Regions from separate parts of the Homo sapiens genome. Here region 1 is linked to region 2. The links come from fine-mapping of genetic effects on gene expression. A gene starts in region 2. The other region holds a variant in brackets. All regions are shown on one strand. Distances are between the middles of the regions.

Region 1 (11,307 bases), 24 kb after region 2:
TGTCATAGAACTATATACAAAAAACAAAAAAACAGTGCAAGGAAAAACAGGTGAAATCTGAGGAAGGTCTGTAGTCTAGTTAATTATATTGTATTAATGTCAATTTTCTGGTTTTGATAAGGTACTATAGGTTTGTAAAATGCCATCTACAGAGAAGCTAGGTGATGGATACATGGGACTTCTCTGTACTATTTTTATAACTCCTTGCGAGTCTATAATTATTTCAAAATAAAAAGTTGACAACAAAAGCATGCCACAAAGCTAGAGTGATGTGTTGTCACAGAAATTGACAAATCCATTAGTAGAAAAAACACGATAGTGTCTCTGTATTCCACTTATGGTTTGTAAGATGATTTAAAATTGTACATAAATAAGCATGTCATTTAAAAAGTTAGGCATTTATTTTAATGTTTACTAGAAAAAAATTTAAACCTATAATTTTATAGGCTTAGGGTGAGGCTAAAGTGGAAATTTAATCTTAAAATGCATTATGCTAAAATATTAAGAAAATAAATGGAATATTAATATAACAAATGAAGATGGGACTCAAATGACTGCATGTGGGGAAACAATAGCATGGGAAGTACAAGATAAGGGGATATTAGACACATGTATCCATAGTCATAGAGTTTATCATAAAAGGGCATTCAAGATGGGAAAAGAGTGATTTAGTCAATAAGTCACGTTAAGCAGATTGGTGACCATAAATTGTATGTTTGGAATAAAATTAAGTTAAATTCCTATCTCGCTCCATAAATAACAACACATTTCAACTGGATTAAAGACCAAATCATAGATGATAAAATTATAAGGGCATTACAAAAAAATATAGGAGGATGTTTTTAGAATGCTAGGCTTGGGATGAAATTTCTAAGCAAGCTGCAAAACTGGAGGCTGTAGGCTAGGCGTGGTGGCTCACGCCTGTAATCCCAGCACTTTGGGAGGCTGAGGCAGGTGGATCACCTGAGGTCAGGAGTTCGAGACCAGCCTGGCCAACGTGGCGAAACTCCGTCTCTACTAAAAAATACAAAAATTAGCTGGATGCGGTGGCAGGCACCTGTAATCCAGCTACTTGGGAGGCTGAGGCAGGGAAGGGGAAGTTGCAGTGAGCTGAGATTGTGCCATTGCTCTCCAGCCTGGGAGACAGAGCAAGACTCGGTCTCAAAAAAAACAAAAAACAAACAGCAAAAAAACTGGAGGCTGTAAAGGAAACACAAAGGATGTATTTGACTATATTAAAGCTAAAAACTTGGATGACAAAAGCACCAAAATCAAGGTAAAGTACAAGAAACAGATTTGAAAAAAAAAATACATTTAAGAGTCAAAGAGGCTGGTTGTGGTAACTCATGCCTGTAATCCCAGCACTTTGGGAGGCCGAGGTGGGCAGATCACTTGAGGCCAGGCATTGGAGACCAGCCTGGGCAACATGGTGAAACCTCTTCTTTACTAAAAATAAAAAAATTAGCTGGGTGTGGTGGCGTGCGCCTCTAATCCCAGCTACTCAGGGGCCGAGGCATGAGAATCACTTGAACCTGGGAGGGAGAGGTTGCAGTGAGCCAAGATCGCACCGTTGCACTCCAGCCTGGCAATACCGTGAGACTCTGTCTCAAAAAAAAAAAAAAAAATTTAAGTAAATAGCCTGATAAAATAAATGGTCAAGTAATTTATCTGGGTCATTCACAAAAAAAGACAGCTAAATGGCCAATAAACATATGAAAGGATAAGCATAGCTTTATAGTAATCAATATAATACAAGTTCCAGCAACAATGGAAAGCCCTTTATATCCCATAAGGTTGAAAGGACATTAACAAGTGATTAAAAACAATGATGACAATTAATAACAATGGTGCACTGTAGGGAAATCTACACTCCTATACGCTATTAATAGAACCATAATTGAGTCCATCTTTTAAGGCTGCATTTATCAAGATTAAAGATGCACATAACTTTTGCTCCAATTATTTTATTTTATTTTTTGAGATAGAGTCTCACTCTGTTGCTCAGGCTGGAGTGCAGTGGTGCAATATCAATGCTCACTGCAGCCTCCGCCTCCCGGGTTCAAGTGATTCTCCTGCCTCAGCCTCCCAAGTAGCTGGGATTACAGGTGCCCATCACCACGCCCCCTAATTTTTGTAATTTTTTAGTAGAGACAGGGTTTCACCATGTTGGCCAGGCTGGTCTCAAACTCTTGACCTCAAGTGATCCACCCACCTTGGCCTCCCAAAATGCTGGGATTACAGATATGAGCCACCGCACCTGGCCTGATTTTATTTTCGTTGGTATTTGTCCTAGAGAAACACAGGCTCAGGTGCTCCAAAGTATATACAACAATGGTGTGTGTTGCTGCACTGCTCAAAACACCAAAAATTTGAAAGCATCCTCAGTATTTTCCACAAGAGAAATGGCTGAACAAATAGTGGTACATTTGTATTATAAAATACCATGTAATAATTGAAAAGAATGAGGCAATAAGCTATGTGAACAGACATTAGTGTATGAAAGTAAGTTACAGAATAACATGTAGTTTAATCTCATTTATGTAGATTAAAACAACTGAATATATTCAACCATTCAACATGTATTTAATAAGCCCTTATTTGTCAAATATTATTCTAGGGCCTGGGGATACAGAAATGAGCAAAAGAGAAAAGCATTTGTTCCTGTAAACCTTGTACTGGGGAGGGAGACAGATAATAAATGTAAAGTTATTTATTTATTTATTTATTTATTTATTTATTTATTTATTTATTTTGAGTCGGAGTCTCGCTCTGTCACCCAGGCTAGAGTGCAGTGGCGTGATCTTGGCTCACGGCAACCTCTGCCTCCTGGGTTCGAACGATTCTCCTGCATCCGCCTCCTGAGTAGTTGAGATTACAGGCACCCACCACCATGCCCGCTAATTTTTGTATTTTTAGTAGAGGCAGGGTTTCACCATGTTGGCCAGACTGGTCTCAAAAGGCTCAAGTGATCCCCCCGCCTCAGCCTCCCAAAGTGCTGGGATTACAGGCGTAAGCCACTGCACCCGGCCTTCAAGCAATTTATTTCTAATAAAAAATAAATTTTAAAAATATGTAAGGCAAAGACGAGTGTTGGGAAGGCAATAAAATAAGATAAGGGGATATTACCATCCCTGCCCTAAATAACAAAACCCAATAACCAGAGAGTGTGTGTGTGTTGCCACACCCTTTCTACTGTGATGGTCTTGGAAGCAGGAGTGAAGAAGCTTTACCAGCCTGGGTTTCTGAGTATCAGGATGAGCCCCTGTCCACTTGTGATGGACTTCTGTGAGTGATAAATGCATTTGTGTTTTGTTAAGCCTCTAAAATTTGCGGTTGTCTCTGCAGCAAAATATAGCCTATCTTACTAAAATAGTCCTCTTTTTTTGAGTTGCTCCTTTTCTAGGAGGAGTTTGGGAGGAGCATCTGGAAAGAGGAACAGCTTTCATTCCAGGGCTTCCTTGCAGGTAGGCACTTATTAGGGTGAAATGAAATGAGTCCTGCATTTTGCTACCCCTCAAGTCTCCTCAAAGAGCAGTGAGCTCTGAGGGTATGTGGGAGGGTGAATTCTGCCCAAGAGCCTTTGCTTGGGAGAGGTGGTGACCCCCGGCCTGATAGTAGTTAGCTTATGCTTCTGACCTCTGGTGCCCCTCTGGCACCTCTCCCAATAGACATCCCCCCCACCTCCAAAGCCCTATCTCACTTCTTTTCCTACCTAGCACTAGGTAGTCTCTTTGCACGATAAGCTGATAATGTGCTGACTTTTTTTTGAAACGGAGTCTCACTCTGTCACCCAGGCTGGAGTGCAACGGCGTGATCTCAGCTCACTGCAACCTCCGCCTCCCGGGTTCAAGCGATTCTCCTCCCTCAGCCTCCTGAGTAGATGGGATTACAGGCGCCCACCACCGCGCCTGGCTAATTTTTGTATTTTTAGTAGGGACGGGGTTTCGCCATGTTGCCCAGGCTGGTTTCAAGCTCCTGACCTCAAGTGATCTGCCCCCTCTGGCCTCCCAAAGTGCTGGGATTACAGGCATGAGCCACCATGCCTGGCCGATAATATGCTGACTTTTAAGTGTGCAAGGCCCTTCCTGCCCCCACCTACAAATATAATGTGATTGCTATAAAAATTCCTTATGGAAAATTCATTCTCAAGTTTATTGGGAACATTGAAAATGCAAGGATAGTCAACAAAAAAAGTTAAACAATAGTAGTGAATACTTGCATTACCACACAGCAAATATGTTACAAATCTACAGCAACTAAAATGGTATAATGCTGCACAAGAGTTATGAAGCAAATTCATGTGTCTATGTGGATCTGGTATGTTGGGAAGACAGTATTTTGAATTAGTTGGAGGAAAGACAGGGTTATTAGAGACATAGCTTTTGAACAATTAGTTCATTATTTGGAATAAAGCTATTTATCTCACACTGTGTGCAAAAATAAACACAAATTTAAATGTAAATAAAAGCTCTAAAAATTGAAGAACAAATATAAAATAACTTTCTAGAAAGGAAAATAAATGACATATTTGAGTACCTAAAAATAAACGCATCTGCAGGGTAAGAGACAGATGGGGAGAAAATATTCATAATGAATTCTTAACAGAGTCCTAATGTCTGGTATACACACAGCCTCTGTAAACCAGTGAGTAAAGTCAAGCAGTCCAGTGGGAAACCGAACAAATTATTCAGAGAAGAAGAAATGCATGTGGTTAATAAATATGAAAAAATACTCGGGCTAGAGGAATCAGAAAAATGAAAGTTATAACAGCAATGAGATATCCTTGTTTTTTGAGATGCCATATTTTATCTATCAGATTTGGAAAATTGTACTGGCAAGGCTGAGTAGAATTAGGTTCTCTCAAGCTCTCTCAATAAGAACATAAATTGATATAATATATGGTTTTTGAAGAGGAATAATGCCTAGCTAAACTTAAAATGCACTGTTCCTTTGTCCCAGCATTTTTATAGAGCTTTCTATCACACAGAAACGTTGGCGTAGTTGATAAATACAGACCCACTGTTTGTAGCATAGTTTGCAAGAGGGAGAAAAGGGGGAAAAGCTGAATGTTTATCAATAGGAAAATTGTCGATAAAATCACAGTCTAGTAATAACTTTGGCTATATGTAAACATTAACAAGAATGAGACACATAACCTGGATGGATGTTTATTGTATACTACTAAGTGAAATGGCAAGTGTGCATAAACCCATTTTTATATTAAAAAAACAGTAAAAGTAAACTCTTTCTGTGTGTGTGTTTGTGTTTTTGTAACCACATAGGAACAAGTCTGGCAAAAGAAGCACCTCACTCTTCTCTTGCCTCTGAGGAGTGGAAACCGATCAGGGAGGAAAGATTCAACTCATTTTTTGTCTTTCTTTATTATTTCTTTTGGTGAAAAGACTAGGGAATAAAATTTTTTTGGTAGCAAACATTTTAATATGTTTGTGTATGCATATATAATGTTTTAAATGCTGGATGAAGATTTTTCTAACTAGGAGCTAGAATCTAGAAGCCCAAAAAGGAACAACCATTAAATGTGGTTAGAGTTTAAATTTCAGTTTAGAAAAAAAAAAAATCCCACAAAGAAAGTTTTTTGTTGCTGTTTTTTTGTGGGTTTTTTGTTTTGTTTTGTTTTTTTTTTTAAGAAAGTGACCTGGGAGTTGTTTGCAATACATGTCACAGAAAAAGGGCTCATTTCCTTACTATATAAGTGGCACTTACGAAGATGAGAAAACAATTAGTGATCCGATAGAGAAATGGCTAAATATATGAAAAATTCACAGAAGAGAATATTAAAATGAAGAATAACTACATAAAAACATGCTTAACCTCACTAGCAATTTAAACTACTAATAAAATGAGATTATTCTGTCACTTGAAAAGATTTCACTCTAAAAAATTAAGTATAT[T/C]CTGAGTTGGGAGGACGTAGAGAAATGACACTTTTATACAAGATGGCTAAGAGTATAAATCAATATAAGAGTTTTGGTATAAAATTTGGAAATACTATCATAACTTTAAATGTATATCCTTGGATTTTAAAAGTTTGCTTCTAGGAATTTATCCTGTAATTATATTCATACCATGTATATGTAAAATGATTCTTGTTACTTTAAACAGTTTATTATGACAAATTTCAAATATTTACAAAATTAGGGAGAGCAGTACAATGAGCTCCGATATACCTATCCCCCAATTTCAACTATTAGAAACTCAGGAATAATCTTCTTTCTTCTATTCTGCTGTAATTATTAGCAAATTCTAGAAGTCATAACATTTCACTTATGAGTATTTCAACATGTATCTCTTAAAAAGGGGGGACTCTTAAAAAAGTCACCTATAATACTATTATCACAATAAAAATCGACAATTATTCCTTAATATAATAAAATATCCCACCTGGTTTTACATGTTCCAAATTGTCTCATAAATAAGATTTAAAAAAAACCATTTGTTCAAGGGAGCACTCATTCTATGGTATAAATGAGGTAGGTGTTGCCTGGGATAAAAAGATAAGAATAATTAAAAATAAAACAAACCATTTGTTCAAATTAGGATACAAAGATGTTCACTACAGCATTGTTTGTAATAATGAAAAAGTACAACCAACCTAAATATCCATTAATAGAGGACTAGTTAAATAAGTTATATGATATCTACATAACGGAATCCTATACAGTGGTTAAAAAGAATGAGGGAGTTCTAGAAAGAAAGATTTCCACAAATATTCTTTTACTCTACTTGCAAGCTAAGACAATTTGTTTAATTAAGAAAAAAGTCATTGCAAAAAAATCCAATTTTTGTAATATATAACTTACATATTTATATTTTTCAATTACTAGGTAAAGTTTGGAAGGTAAATCTTAGGAGTGGAAGTGTATCATGTAAGGGAAATTAGAAACTTTTAAATTTTACATGACATAGCAAAATAGTATGGATTGCTTTTGTAATTAAAAAGATATTTTATGAGAGGCGCAGGTGGGAGGATTGCTTGAGGCCAAGAGTTTGAGACTGGCCTCCTCAATATGGTGAAACCCTGTCCCTACTAAAAAAAATTAAAAATAAAAAATTAAAGAAAATAAATAAAAAATTAAAGCTAGGCCAGCATTGTGGGGAGTGCCTATAGTCTCAGTTACTCCAGAGGCTGAGGTGGGGGGACTGCTTGAGGCCAGGAGTTCAAGGTTATAGTGTGCTATTGTTGGGCCACTGCACTCCAGCCTGGGTGACAGAGTGAGCCCTTGTCTCTAAAAAATAAATATAATGACATAATAAAAATAAAAAGACATTTTATACTTCTGAAAACAAAAGACCATCCTAAACAAAATCAAAGGATAAATTGTAAATTAAAATGTTGCAACACATATTGAAAGCAATACATAGAGTTTCTACAGATCAATAAGGAAAAGGTATATTTGCAAATTAAACTGGTCAAAGGAAATGAATCAATAGATAGAAGAAATACAACTGGCTAATGAATATGAAGATCGACAAAGATGAAATGATACAAAATGTCCAGTGTGGGGACAGGGCAAAGGGGTGGACATAAGTAACTAAACTTCTCCTGCAGAATAACTTGACTATGTTCATCAGGATGTAAAATGTGAACTGTGCTGGCAAATTTTGGAGAAACAACCACTTTCAGACATCGCTGGTGGCAGTGTAAACTGCTTCCATCTTATGGAGGACAAACAATTGGGCATTATCTTGCAAATTTCAAACACAGATACCATTTGACCCAGTAATTCACTTTTAGGAACTTCTCTGACAGATATACTCACACATGTGGAAATGACTAAGAAACAAGTTTATTTATTTCAGGATTACATATAATAGCAACAGATAAGAAAATAACCAAATGTCCACAAATAGGGTACTGGTTATATGATATACATTATGATCCACCTAGTCCACTTAAATGGAATATTATGCATCTATAAAAAAAACAAACAAAAAGTTATTTACACCCCAAGATATATTGGAAGAAAAAAGTTATATAACTGCACTGATTTCCATAGGCATAAACATTATCTGGAAGGACATATTAGAAAGTCCTTGAACCAGGTGGGAAGTGGGTGATGGGGACAGGGATGGGAGAGGTTTTTCACCGGATACTTTTTAAAAAGTGCAGTGGCTCCCACCTGTAATCCCAGCTATGTGAGCACTTGAGTCCAGCTTAAACCCAAAATAGTGAGACCTCCCATCTCCTGATGTCTGAAAAAAAGATGTTTTGATGAATTAATTATCTATTTTACAATTACCTATTACAGTAAATGAAATATATTTAAATTGTGTGTGTAAATCTTTCGAAGCAGTAATTACACTGCTAGAAACTTATCCCACAGAAACAGTCAAAGGTCTAGAAGAACCCTGCCTTCGGAGCTTACTTCACAGTGTTTATATTAAGGAAAAACAACCCCAAGGTCCCTCCAGTCTTTAGGGGAATTAGGCTTTCCCCAACTAAAGGAATACTTAATTCTACAGTCAAGGGACAGCAAGAACTGGTTCAGCAGAGAAGATGATCACTGCAGATTAAATTTTTTTGAAATGGTAAATTGCAAAACAGCCTATGAAATATAGTTCTGCTTTTATTTATTTGTTCGTCTATAAGAGCGTGGAAAAATCGCCTGGAAGGACTCGCCCAGAATTGAAAACAGTGGCTGTTCCTGGGATCCTTCTTTGCTTCCGGTTTTTAAAAAAATCGAGCTCGTATTACTTTTTGAATTTAAATCCTCTATTTTCCTGTCTACATTGTAAGTGTGGCCCTGCCGGAGGCTGTGCCTCGTAGAGTGTCCTTTGCCCGGCCCTGGCTTCCGCAGCTCCGCGGGTGGACGCGGTGGGCTGCCAAGTAGTGGGGAATGGAAGGCGGGACAGGGGCTCTGAAAGTCAATGTCTCCAGCAAGACGCTAAAGAAACCGTGGCGTCAACTGCGCGGTTATTTTTGGCTCCAGCCGTGGGCTGCAGCCGTGTGAGCCGGCAGGGGCAGGGGCACAGATTTATCCAGTTATTTCTGTCAACCCTCTGGCTGGCTTTGCCCGTGGAACCTCACACCCGGCTGCCGCCGAAAGCCGAAAGCCGAAAGCCGGGAGACTCACCATTGACTTTACGAGCGGCCCAGCGCTTCCCAAGACCTCCGCTCCAGCCTAGGCCGGCCTCTAAGCCGCCACATATATGAGGGTTTTCAGGTTTTGTAATTCAGTGCTTCCCAAAGCTGCGGATTGCAGAAACAAAATTTCGAAACTATGGGGTTGTCAACTTCATGCTTTAACAATTATTCTATGTTCTGCCATGATCACTGTTTCATATAAGAAGGACATTGCAACGTCAAAAAATAAGATAATATTAGAACACACGTTCTTCCGGGAGAAGGCGTTGGCCGCCTAATTAATACCTACAGAATTATGCCATGTTGATGAATTTTGTCCCATTTAAGTTATTCGAGAAGTATTTATTGAGTGCCTACAGTGCACTAAAAGCATCCGGGAAGATCGCCTGGATTTGGTGGGCACAGTGACCACCTCCTACGTGGTCTTTGCCTGGCTTCAAGGGAAGCAGGCTCGGGGAGCCCGCCCCCTCGACTTCAGCGGGGAAGTCTCTACCCAGCTGTTTCTGGCCTGACTGTGGGAGCTGGGCAGAAACAGCTTACATTTATGGGAAGCTGCGTGCCAGCAGCTTGAGCCAGGATCAGTCTGGCACACAGTGAGTACGCATTAATGTTTGTAGAATAAGTTAAAGAACAAGAAACGCGCGGTAGCTCAGTCCTGTAATCCAGCACTTTGGGAGGTCGATGAGGGAGGATCGCTTGAGCCCAGAGGTTCAAGGTTACAGTGAACTATGATTGCACCCTTGCACTCTAGTCTGGGCAACAGAGCAACCACTCTATCTAAAAAAAAAAAAAAAAAAAAAAAAAAGGAAAAGAAAAGAAAAAAAAAGAAAGAATAAAAGATGTTAAGGCCACGGGGGAGATGGTTCAAGGAGGGCCCTGAGCCTTTACAAGCCCAAGCCTCCGCCAGGGCCTTATAGCACACTCCTTCAGTCTGGCACTCACCCTGACTTTCCGGGTGCATTCACCCTGGCTCTGTAGGCCACATCCAAGCCTGGGGCTGCTACCTCTTTCTGCAGTGCTGAATGTCCCCAGTCAGCATCCACCAACAGTGGGAGAACCCAGGACACTGAAACCCCCAACTGCCTTCCCGGATGAGCTGGGTTGGGGGTATGAGGAATGAACTAGCCTCCTAGACCTGTCTCGCCGCAGGGATTGGTGGGCAGGCCCATGCAGCGTTGGTGTCTTCTATCAGAGTATCTTGAACTGGGGTACAGAATCTGCAGATGCACAGCCAGGTAACCGGCTACTGGCTCTCCAAGGGTAGTCAGGTCTAGCATTATTTGTGATTTTATATTAAGCAAGGAGCAAATAGGCAAAATTCATATGCTCCACCTCCCACCATTAAAATAGAAATCAAAGAAATGTAGCCAACAAGAAGGGAGCCTGCAGCCAAGGGGTAATTGGGGAAATGGCACCCAGGCCAACGTGATGCATAGACACCCTCTCTCCTTACCGGTGCTGCGCAAAAGAGGAAGACTTGAGCCCGGTGGCTTTGACTGACTGCGGGTGCATGCCACTGCCATCTCCTCCCTTTCCTGTAGCCCCAGGTACCCACTCCTTGTCCGGGCTTCCAAAGGATTTGGCCTCCTTGCCCCTCGGACTCCCCAGAAGCTACCTGGGGGACCATCCCTGAAGATGCAGGTGTGTGGGGCAAGGGGATGCGGTGGCAGTTCCATGGGTTCCTGGGTCTACCAGACCAGGCGGGGAACAGAAATCGCCTGAGGAGGGAAGGAGCTGTCTAATCTTCCTGAACCGTTCCCTGAAAATGAAAACTGGGCACACAAGACACACCTACAAGATGATTTTTCGGGTTGCTGGTCTGCTTCAGTGTGTGTTTGTGGGGGTAAGGGTTATGGAAGGGGGGGAAACAAAAGAAGACCCAAATGAGAGGGCCCGGCATAGGAATAGGCACGCTATGGGAATGTGGGCCTCCTGCCGAAAACAAGTAAAAGGAAAAAATAACGTAAAGCAACTCCAAGAAAACAAACAAACAAAAAAGAAACCCTCTACAAATGCTAAAACCAAAAAATAAAACAAATACAAAAATCTCAAAGTGCAATTCCTTGCATGAACCATTTACACCTTTCCACGTCTGCCTTGGGGGCTGGTCCTCGGTTGTCAGGTCTATTAACAGACTCAGATATTGAGACTAAAGTCCTGTGGTCCTTACTAAACGCCTGCTCAGCAGGGCTAGGCCTGCGGCC
Region 2 (11,240 bases):
CGGCCAGGCCGCTCGGGTGACCGGGGTGAGATATCGAAGCTCAACATCTTAGCACATCAGCCTCAGCTGTGAGTTGCCTTCCTGGGCTTCTCGCAGCCTCCAGGCCTGGCTCTGGGTGAACACATCGCTTCATGGCCTGGACCCATCATTGCAGATAATCCACTTAGGCGGCTGTTTCTGTTCAGCATTGGACTATGCCCATCCTTCAAGGCCTTGCCCTTGACTGACTACTGCAGCCCACTGGGTCCTCTCCCCACTGCTGTCCCACGGTACTACAGACTGGGACCCTAGAGGGATGTCTCTCCCGTCAGATGTCTTAGAGCTCTGCCTCTCCCCTGTTAAGCCAGCCTGATCTTTTCTTCTAGGCTGTTTGGTTTGGACACAGCCAAAATGGGGGCTGAGCAACAGAGGTGTCCTTGACTGCAAGCCGGTCCTTTTGTTTGTACACTGCCGCCCCTACCTCCGTGTGTCCCTTGCATGGAGTGGCAAAACGAGGCCCAGAAAGTGGGCTAGTTTCTGGCAGGACGCACCACAGTTCAAGACGGTATCCTGCAGCGCTCAGCGATTATGGCCCACTCTGCAACCCTGGGATGTTCGCCTTGACCCTGGAGAGGGAAGCGGGTGCATTGCCACAGGCAGAGGGCTGGATCAGAAGACCCAAAGGGCGCTCCTTCCATGGGCCTTCCAGAGACTTTGCAGACACTCCCTCCAGCTGCCCGGCCCACCCCCTCTCCATTGTCTTAGCTGACACTTTGGGTTGCGCTCCGGACTTCTGGCTGGTGGAGCGCCTCCCTGCCCCCACCTCCCTACCGCCTTTTCTGTCAAAGGCTCAGCGGGGCCCCCGCGCGGCCCACTAATTAGCGCTGGCCCAGCCACACCTGCAGCGTCCTGGGAGAGGGCTGAGACAGGCGCCCATGCGTGAGGCCGGGATGGGGGCAAGCCCGGGGCAGCAGGTCCCGCACCTCCTCCCTGATCCCGCTGGAGGGATTAGAGGAGGGAGGGCAGGGGCTGGAAGCTGAGGGCTCTTCAGCCCAAGACCCTGCTTGTTGGGACTCTCTCCGTGTAACTCCTTCCCCTTCCAGTTGAGGAAACCGAGGTGGGGAGGCAAAGACAGTGGTTTGGCACTCAAGCTCCTGGGGGATCTTCAGGGATCTGACCTGGCTTCATCCCTCCAACCAGGCTGCCAGCTTGTCCTTCCTGACCTTTGCTCCTGCTGGGCACCTCCACCCTCCAAGCCCAACATCTTCTGCCCAAACAGATGAAGCTCCAGGATACCTCCTCCCCAGCCGGGAGCCAAGGCCCTTGGGGAACCATTCTAGCTCCACGGGAGGCACAGGGGACCCTTCTTTCCCAAGGTAGATGTTGGCAGGGTCAGCTCCCCAGGCTGCCTCCACTCTTTCTAGTGTCTCCTCCTTTCTAGCCAATCCTCTCTCAGCCACTGCAGTGAAATCAGCCTTAAAGTCTCAGGCCTCTTTAGCCCACCTCCCCCGGGGGAGGGGAATGCCTAAGTCACCTGGACTCACCTCCACCGTGGCCCAGCGAGCACTGGGGCCTCCCTGCCCTTAGGCACCCCCAGCTTTTCTCCCAGAGTTCTCCTGTCTGGGAGTGCTTACAGACCCAGGGTAGGAGGCCAGGCTGGGGAGGAGACAGGTGGAGAGGGACAGAGTGGCCCTGCCTCTGGCGTACTGAGGGTGCAGCCCTAAATTTCCAAACCCTTGCCAGCCCTGCGCCTGTCCACAGGCCCCAGGGAGAACCACCCCCCTCATCCCTCCCACTCCCAGAGCCTGAGGAGGAAGTGAGTGAGGCGGGGAGGGGATTGGGAGACACTGTGGATGAAGGGACACACCAAGGAATCCCAGCCTTCCCCTGGGGGTGGGAGGGCATCTGGGCTGGGCTGAGGCTGGCCCGGTGCATCCTGTGAGGATACTTGATAGGCAGCAAAAGTAAAGGCGCTGGCAGGGAGCAGAGCCTAGAGGGGCTCCCCTGCACTGACCTTTGCTCTGGGTCCACTGTTGGGTTGTTTGGTGTGAACACATTCTCCTGGGTGGAGGCCATATAGAGCCAGCATCGAGGGAAGCATGCAAACATGGGGGGCGGGCACAGCCATCCCTGGGTTCCAGCCTGGGTCAGAACCTCCAGGGCATGTTGACTATACATAAGGGGCTGGGTGGGAAAGAGCTGGCTGGAGGTGGCTCCAGGCTTGGGCCAACCTGCCCAGAGGAGTGTGGGGTTAGATGGTACCTATAGGGTCCCTGGGTATCAGGAGGTGGGGGCACTTTCCAGGAAGAAGGAAAGCAGAGCATGAAGGTGCAGATCACACACCACACTCAGCACCCAGCAACTCCCGGGTGCCTGCAGGGAGGAGGGACGGCCTGCAGGGAGTGGGGCTCATCACAACAGACTGGCAAGAGTCACACATGCCAGCTCAGGGCTCCAGGCCTGGGCTCTGGACCCAAGGGGGCCCAGTCACTGCATATTTCTGGGCCTTGGTGACCCTAGCTTTGGCCTAGGGAGTATCCGGACCTCCTATCCTCCCCCGAGCTCCATGGGGCAGGGCCTACAGGCCTTGCTTGAGAAATCTGACCCACCCCATTCTCACCATTTCTTCTTAGCTGGAATGTGCTCCACCCTCAGCACCTGCCTCAGGCCTCAGGAGGTGCCCCACACCCCAGGGCTCTCCTCCCATGCGCCCCCGGGCCCCTTTACTCTGATTTCACCCCTCAGCTACCCTCTGAGTTCACTCCACCTCCTCTCCTGGCCTGGATAGCAACAGAGGAACAGAGGGAGGTGGGGTGGCTGCATCAGGCTCACTTCCCCTCACACCACACTCCCTGTTAGGAGCCTCTGGCTCTGCATAGCTGTGGCGGGCCATGCTGGTTTACTCCAGTGAGCCTCTGGCTCTGCATAGCTGTGGCGGGCCATGCTGGTTTACTCCAGTGAGCCTCTGGCTTTGCATAGCTGTGGCGGGCCATGCTGGTTTACTCCAGTGAGCAGGGCGGCCTGAGAATTCACCAGGCCAGGGAGAGTGACCTTGGACAAGGAGATGCAGGGGTTCCCTTTGGTCCTCTGGACCTTGCCCCAGACATCTGGGCCACCCTTGCAGGACAGGCACAGGAGCCACAAGTAGGGCCTCCCCTCTGAAATTGACAAGGGTACATCCCAGCACCTGTAGACACTTCCATGCCCCACACCTGGATACGCATTCTTATCCCAGCTGTACACACACTCACCATACTCAGATATGTGACACTGCCAGAACACATACACAAGTGTTCTCTCCATGAGTGCACATGCACACACGTACATCACACCTAAGTGCACACACACACACCTTTGCCCTGAGTGCATAAGCATGCAGTCACACATTTCCTTACCCCAAGTGAAGGTGGGAGCACCCCCTAGGCACATGCTCCTACCTGCTTATGCACACAGGCACCCTCCTCAGAACACACATACGACATGCACCCATTGATGTGACGCACACGGGGCACCTATTTCCTCAGGCTGAGAGCGCTGACACTCTGCACTGCCACACACACCACTCCAAGTACACTTAATCACACCCCGCCTGACTCTGAGTGCTTGGGTGCACACTCCTCACACAGGCACGTTTACACAAGAGCAGGTGCACAGCACACCCCACTCTCAGGGGCAACTGGAAGCTATCTCTGGACTTCGGGTGTTACAGCAGGATTGGGCTGATGACAGCTACTCCCCAGCCCTCTCTTCTGGGGTGGGCTGGGCTGGGGACCTGCAACCCTTCACCTGCAGAGGTGGCCTCTGGTCCAGGTGGCCCCACTGCGTCACTCTGCTGGACAGAGAGCCCTCCAGGTCTCCCCAGGTCTTGGGTCCTCCTCCTTTTCTGAGGCAAGAAGCGGGGCCCGGGAACCTGGCAGCCCACCCCAGCTCCCCACCCTGACCTCACCCGTCACGGTGGAGGGGCTACTCACTGACACGGGGGTGGGTGATGTAGTTTCGGGTGACCGCCTGCATGTGTTCTCGGGCTGCACCTAGGTTGCAGCTACTGCCGGGGAGCCCCCCAGGCCTGCTGTCTATCTCCATGGCCATGGAGCAGTCCCCAGCTGGGAGCCCAGTGTCTGAGCCTGCTGCTGGTGGCAGCTCTGAGACTTCAGGTCCAGCTGGAGCTGGAGAGAGCTGCTCAGCCTTCCCCTGCAGCCACCCCTCCCCTCTCCCCCTCCCCTCCCTCTCCTCCTCCTCTAGGTTGACAGTAAACAAGGAAGCCTGGGGCTCTGGCTCCCAAGCTTTCCCCACACCAAGCTGTGCAGGTCTGGGAGGGGCCCCCGTCACCTGAGAGCTGGAGGATGTGGAGGGAGAAGGGAAGAGGGGAGGGCTGGCTTTTTCCTTCTTCTGTGCTAGGCGGTTCCTCCCCGCCAACCCCAAACTGTATGAATTCAATTCCTCCCCTGGACCATCAGGTGCTGTCAACATTCCCACACTCGTCCCTCACCACAGCTCTTTCTGGTCTCTCCACACCCAACTTCTGGCAGGCTGCCCTTTCTTCACTGTTCTCGCAACCTGACCTTACCCTGCACTCCTTGCCCTGACTATACCTGGATACTTCTGCCCCCTGACAATTCCATCGTCATCTTTTTGAACATCTGTAGAGAATTATTTCCTGGTCAGCCTCAGTGCCATCTCCTACATGAAGCCTTCTCTGGATTCTCTAGCAGCCAAGATTTACTACACATCTAGCCTCTTTCCTAAGTCATGCCCTTTAGGAGAGGCCTCTCTTGTCCCTGCCACTGGGCTGTGAGCCCCCAAAAGCTGAGCCTGTGTCTCAACCCACAGACCTGGGTCTCCTGAAGCCTGTCTGTCTCATACTATTGAGAGTTCTTGAGAATGAGGGCTGGTCTCTCTCCATCTGATCATAGAACCGTGTCTCATCTTCTCACATTCACCTCCAGATTTCTATACAGCAGGCCTGCCCTGACCTTTCCAGCCCAGGTCAGAAAGTAAAATGGAGGTCCCTGTATTGTATAACTAAATACCTGGAGTTATAAATCAAACTATGTGCACAGCCTGGCCTGGGTTCCACCCAAGACCTCACCACTGCTTCCCAAGAACTCTCTCTTCATGTCATGAAACTAAGAGTTGTGGTTTCTCCTGGTGAGTGGAGTGTGGTACAGTTCCTCTGGGCAAGGCAGGGTGGACCCTGGGTGGTAGCTGGACCTGCCCAACCCAAGGTCTTCTAGTCACCCCCATGCCTCATTCTAGGCTCAGGATTTCTGCATTTCTAAGCTCCTCCCCAAACCATACCACTGAGCAGAGGGAACGGCAGAAGTACATTTGCCTAGGGATCACTGTCCCCAAGCACCCACTCCAGGTGACTCAGGACAGCCAATTTGAAACCAAAGCAGCAGCTACTATGTTTCTCAGAGCAGACTGGAGGAGACTGTGCTTGTTATTTCTCTTCACAGAGTCAAAATCTTACCCCGCATCCTCCCTCCTGAGGACCCATTTCAGGTCTCTGGTTCCTAATGCCCATCCTTTCAAAGAACTCTCCTGTGGAGGGCGGGGGTGGGTGTGACCATCAAGGAGCAGCATGAGGAAGATCTCTGTGGTGATGGAACAGGTCTGCATCTGGATTGCAGCAGTGAGTCCATGAATCTATAAAATGACATGGCACTATGCACACACACGGTACCAATGCCAATTTCCTAGTTTTGATATTGTACTATAGTTAGGGAAGATGAAGCCTATCTGTCTCATACTATTGAGTTCCTGCCAATGGAAGGAACTTCTCTGTCCTATCTCTGCAGCTTCCTGTAAATCTATAATTACTGCAAAATAAAAAGTTAAATAAAAGAGTCTTGAGCAAGACTCTTATTTAACTTTAAAAAAATTTATATTGTTTGAGCAATATGAAATATATATAATATGTATGTGTGTGTGTGTGTGTGTGTGTGTGTATATATATATATATATTTTTTTTTTTTTTTGAGTCAGAGTCTCCCTCTGTTGTCAGGCTGAAATGCAGAGGCATGATCTTGGCTCACTGCAGCCTCCACCTCCTGGGTTCAAGCGATTCTCCTGCTTCAGCCTCCTGAGTGGCTGAGATTACAGGCGCCCGCCACCATGCCCAGCTAATTTTTGTATTTTGAGTAGAGATGGAGTTTCCCCATGTTGGCCAGGCTGTGTATAGATATTTTAAAGGGTTTCATGTTGCAGTTTGTGATGGGTAGGCCGTCTCTAAACATCTGGACTCTTGCTTGTGTTTAGCTTTGATGCTCTCTCTCCCTCTCTCTCAACCTGGTCTCCCCTTTCACCATTCACCCTCTTCAAGGTGACAATGTTTCCCTCTCTCAAGTATTTTTATGTTTGAAAGAGAGCTTGTAAAGGGCAACATTTAACCAAAGAATTCGTGTTGGTGCCATGGGCTTCTATTGAGTGGGAATCAGGTGCCTGCTGACCGACACATGTGAGTCCCCTGACCCCCAGAATCCCAGTTTCTGCCCTCTCCCATCTGAGGTCCCTCTGACTCTAAGCCCATTTTCCCTTCCAGTGACAAGAGGGATAGAAGGGATTGAGGGGTAAGTAGTTGTGCTGTGGGCACCATTTCCCTTCTTGTCATTGTTTTCCTTTTATTTCAGTGAGAGACACACACACTCACACTGCACTCACGCACACAAGCTGCGGGACCAAGGCCATTTGGTCACGAGTCTCTGAGCTGGGGGGCAGGTGGGGAAGAGTGTGTGGCTGCAGCCCCTCCTCTCCGGGGCCTGCTCAGTGCTGTCCGCTGGGGCACAGGAGACTGGGAAGGTGCTGTGCTCGGGACTCAGTGTCACAGGGTGGGAGTCTTAAGTGTTAGCTTTCTTGCAGCTGCTGGCGCTGCCCACTTTCCGTTCTAGCCAGCTGTATGGCTCGAAGGCCGAGGAACCCAGTTCGTAGCCGGCAGGCAGATCCAGGAGCGGGGCCGAGGAAAAGCAGACAGCTGGCAGAGGGGGCGGCAGTGGGGGGGACGCTGAGGCCGAGGACAGCGGGTTGAGGCGTGGGGAGGAGTTCCTGGGGTCACCTAAGGAGGTGCCCCTGTGGCTGGCAGGTAGGCCTGGCAGGCTAGGGGTCAGCGCCAGGAGGCTAGGGGCCCTGGGCACAGAGAGCAGCCGGCCCTGCTCCAGCAGCCGCAGAATGTTGGAGGTGGCAAAGGCCTCGGAGGCTGAGGAGGACGCCCGCTTCTCCAGGTCTCTGCTCTGGTCTTTCTTCTGCTTGGTGCGGCGGTTCTGGAACCAGACCTTCACCTTGGGGTGGGGGAGGGGGTGTCAAGGAGGGAGATGGGACAGGCAAAGCAAAGTGGGGGCAGGTGGGAGGAGGAAAGGAGAGGAAGGGCATGGGGTTGGGGCAGGTGGTGGATGGGGGTGGGGGTGGGGTGTGAGGGTGGAGCAAGAGGGAAAGAAGAGCAGATTGTTGTTAAGGTCTCCCCACAACCATCCTGCTGTAGGCGAACTGATTAGGGACTCTGGTCCCCCAAATTATGGAGGCCCCTCTACTACTAAACTGACTCTGGCCTAGGATGGAGGAATGGATCGACAGACAGAGAATGGAGTTTGGGAGTACAACTGATGTTCTCCTCTTGGCCCACATGCCCTTGGCTCAAAGTCAAGTTCACAGCCTCAGCCACCATTTATGTGCTGGTAATTCCAACTCTACCTCAGGCCCAGAGATCTGAACTGAGATCCAGGCCATGTATCCACCTGCCTGCTAGACATCTCCCCATGGATATCTCAAAAAACACCCCAAACCCCACATGTGCAGCTCTGTCCTCCAAACAGAGGCTTCCCACGCTCCCTCTTCCATCATGGCTGCCTCCACTCACTCATGCAGGAGCCTGTCTCCCAGCTGCCTAGAACAGACCCTCCTCTCTCCCTTTGTTCTCTCTGACCTGGACCGTGGCATTGTCTCTACAGCAGCACCTCTCGACCCTGGCTGCCCATGAGAACCTGGGGAGCTTTAAGCCCCTAACTCACTTCTCACCTTGGACCAATAAACTCAGAACGGGGGAACCTGGGACCCAGACTTTAGTAGTTTTTAAAGCTCACCAGGTGATTCCAAGGTGAAGAAGCCAGTGTTTTAAAGGTGTCTCTGCCCCAGGTCTAAACTGTAACATCTAGAGGGCTGGGGCAAGAGAAAAAATGGAAGCCTCTGGCTCATGGCCCACCCTGGCTCTGACCCACACGTGTGTGGCTGCCCCAGCCTGTTCACAGTCTGCAAATAGCCCCCCATTGGCCGCTTCTTGGGCCTGGAGTGCTGAATAATGTCTGTGGTCTGCCCTTGGGAAGACTGACCCTGGAGAGGCCCAGGCAGGTGCCGGATGTGGCTCAGGGCCATTTGGCGGGGAATTCTGAAACTGGACACTTTGTTGGCAGGGATGGGTGGTCTCAAAGGTGGGCACAGGCTTCTGGCAGGCGAGACCCCTTGGCTTTGCAGAGTCCTCATTCCGTAGGGAGGGGCATGACCAGAGGAGGGGCCAGATGCCTGTCTGGGGATGGTGAGGTCTCTGCATCCATGCTGGCCGCCACGCTGCCTTTGGAGGGAGCTCTTTCTAACCCAATCTGGCCATTGCCCGGTTTGAAGTTTTTAGCAGCACCCTCCTACCCCATCACCTATAAAGGCCAAGTTTCTCAATGTGACACCAAGTGTGACTGGATGTGGCAGGTTGTTGAGGGGGACTTCTGTTGGCCACACATTCAAAGCTGAGGACAAAGAGGTGCCACAGTCTGAAGAAAGTCACCAGAATCATGGAAGAGGTCTTTTTCAGGGCCTCTGAGAGGAGGCAGAACTGGCCCTGCCTCTACTACCCAACACCCAGTGCTCCAAACCCCTTCCTACTCTACATGAGGAAAGGGAACTGGGCAGGAAGCTGAGGCTCAGTCCCCTGGGGGCCACAAAACCTCATGGGAGGAAGGGTGTGCTGCCCTGCAGATGCAAGTTGGGGGAGGGCCCAAAAGAATCACTTGTAGGCACTAGAAGGAGAGACTGGCATTCATGCCCCACTCCAGAAACTCATCAGGCCACAGCATCTACAGGCCCATGTCATGGAGGCCACCATGGGAGCACCCAGACTTGTTTCCCTGGGAACATAGAGGCCAACCCTGCTCCTCGCCTGGAGCTGGGGCAGGTGTACCGGCAGGGAGGGTGAGAACCGTGGAGGGGAGGGCCCAATAAGAAAAGGTCAGGAAGACCTTGCTGGTTCCTTCCAGCTTTTGGAAGATTTAATAGTCCAGCAACTGCTGTGGTTTTGAGAAGTTGCCAAGAGATGGGTGGAGGAGAAGGCTTGAGCCAGAGGGCTGCCCAGGTTAAGAAGACAGGCAGAGCCAAGACAGACTGGGCCACCTGGGCCATGCCAGACATCACCACCTGCTAGGAGTGACTGGCCCTTCAGCAAAGGCCTTCAGAAAGTGAGGCCTTGGTGCTTCCCCTCCTCACACCAGAAGATGTCCAGTCTTTTAAAAAGATCTCTGCCTCCTTGAAGCCACCCCCTGTCGTCTGATCCTGGAGGAGGTGGCTGTTGGGGGAAGAGGGAGCAAGTGACTGAGACAGATCACAATCCCCTCCAGAGGCTGCACTGGGAGGAGGTAAAGAGTGGGCAGGGGTCCTTTTGTAGTTCTTCAGCAGGATGACTGGGTGTTCATGCTCCTATGTGAGATGTGCTTTCCTCAAACCTCAAACCTTGCTGGCAAGCAGTGAGTCAAGGCTGTTCTGAGTGGGGAAGCAGGTGTGGGGCTTCAGGAGAAGATGAGATTTAAACTAGATGTGAGTTGGTGTTTTGAAGGACATTGGATTGAGTTTATTTCTTTATTTTTGTTTTTAGAGACAAAGTGTTGGTTTTCTGCCTGGGCTGCAGTACACTAGTGTCATGAGAGCTCACTGCAGCCTCAAAATCCTGGCCTCAAGTGATCCTCTTGCCTCAGCCTCCCAAGTTCTGGGACTACAGGTGCACACCACCGCACCTGGCGGATGCAGATTCAATAATCAAAAGTGACCAGAAAGTTATGAGACCTACTTGAGGTTGATTGCTTCATTTATCCATTCATTCACTCACCAGATATACATTGAGGCCCAGGGAATCAGCAGTGAACAAAGCCCAGTGAATCCTTGCCACGTGGAGTGGGCGGTGGAGTTGGGGAGGCAGAGGATGAACAACAAACACAAACAAGCCTGTCTGTCAATTGGCAGCAAGGGCTTTGAGCCGTGTTTCTCAAATGATTTGAGGTGAGGACCACTTTATAAAGTGTCCAATTTTGTTGAGGACCAATACTTTAAAAAATACAATTAAAATGAATTACTGGAAAGATTGCTATATACATTGTTTTTTTTTTTTGAGATGGAGTCTCACTCTGTAGCCCAGGCTGGAGTGCAGTGGCATGATCTCGGCTCACTGCAACTTCCACCTCCGGGGTTCAAGTGAGTCTCCTGCCTCAGCCTCCTGAGTAGCTGGGATTATAGGCGTGTGCCATCACACCCAACTAATTTTTGTATTTTTGCTAGAGACAGGGTTTCACCATGTTGGCCAGGCTGGTCTCGAACTCCTGACCTCGTGATCTGCCCACCTCGGCCTCCTAAAGTGCTGGGATTACAGGCATGAGCCACCGCTCCAGGCCTTTTCTAAATACCTATTCTTTATTTCTATACTTACCATGTCATAGACAGGTAACAGTTTATGGGCTGGCAGTGGCCCAAGGGCCATACTCTGGGGGGCACTGCTTTAGAGAAAGGTGGCAGGATAGCAGAAAGGAAGGAGGGGGGTGACTGTTTTGTTAATGGAATGGCACATACAGCCTCCCTGAAGAGGGGACATTTGAAGAAGATATCAGTAAGGGATGGTCAAGGAAGATTCAGCCAAGTCTAGCTGAAGGCAATGACTGGAAAGAAGAAAACCCTTTCCCATTTGTCACCTCTGGAATCTGACTGCTGAGGGAAGGAGTCTCACCAGATCCTCAAGGACCATAGCGCTGCACACTGCTGCATTCCCCCTCCCTGCTGGGAAGCTTCCTGACCTCTTAGCCAAGCCAGCACCTCCCCGTCCTAGGACCTGAGGCCAGGCCACCTCCAGGAACCCCTGAGCCTCAGTGTCTTATCTTTAAAATGGGGACAATAATACTTGGCTATTGCAGAGATGAAAGAAGAAAACCCATTTAGGGAGCTTGGCATCACGCCTGGCCCACAGGAAATGTGAATAGTTATTTATCGCTGGCTTTCTCTGTTTCTAGCTCTGTTTCTGAACT

Alleles and levels. Positions count from the first base shown, and alleles are read on the strand shown. Sizes are in standard deviations (SD) of each study's normalised expression.
With allele C in place of T in region 1, the expression in unexposed skin of the gene that starts at base 4,123 in region 2 is lower (small effect, 0.24 SD a copy in GTEx).

Evidence for each region. PIP is the estimated chance that this variant, and not a neighbour inherited with it, causes the effect. A credible set is the group of variants that fine-mapping cannot tell apart.
Region 1: its variant is the best candidate, but not a certain one, in a credible set for the expression of ATP6V1B1 in unexposed skin (GTEx, PIP 0.79).

The regions. Positions count from the first base shown.
Region 1 is chr2:70,905,122-70,916,428 of GRCh38, reverse strand. The region is part of intron 1 of VAX2 (ventral anterior homeobox 2); the gene reads right to left. Among named protein-coding and RNA genes, the nearest start is that of VAX2, 10 kb to the right of the region's middle. The variant T/C (reference allele first, on the strand shown) is at 5,913.
Region 2 is chr2:70,928,783-70,940,022 of GRCh38, reverse strand. It overlaps ATP6V1B1 (ATPase H+ transporting V1 subunit B1), which reads right to left and starts at 4,123. Exons shown (of 14, transcript NM_001692.4): 1 at 3,951-4,123. The coding sequence starts at 4,068. VAX2 (ventral anterior homeobox 2) reads right to left here. Exons shown (of 3, transcript NM_012476.3): 3 at 6,577-7,256. The coding sequence ends at 6,819. It also overlaps the pseudogene LOC124906188. RefSeq lists enhancers at 1-678, 679-1,519.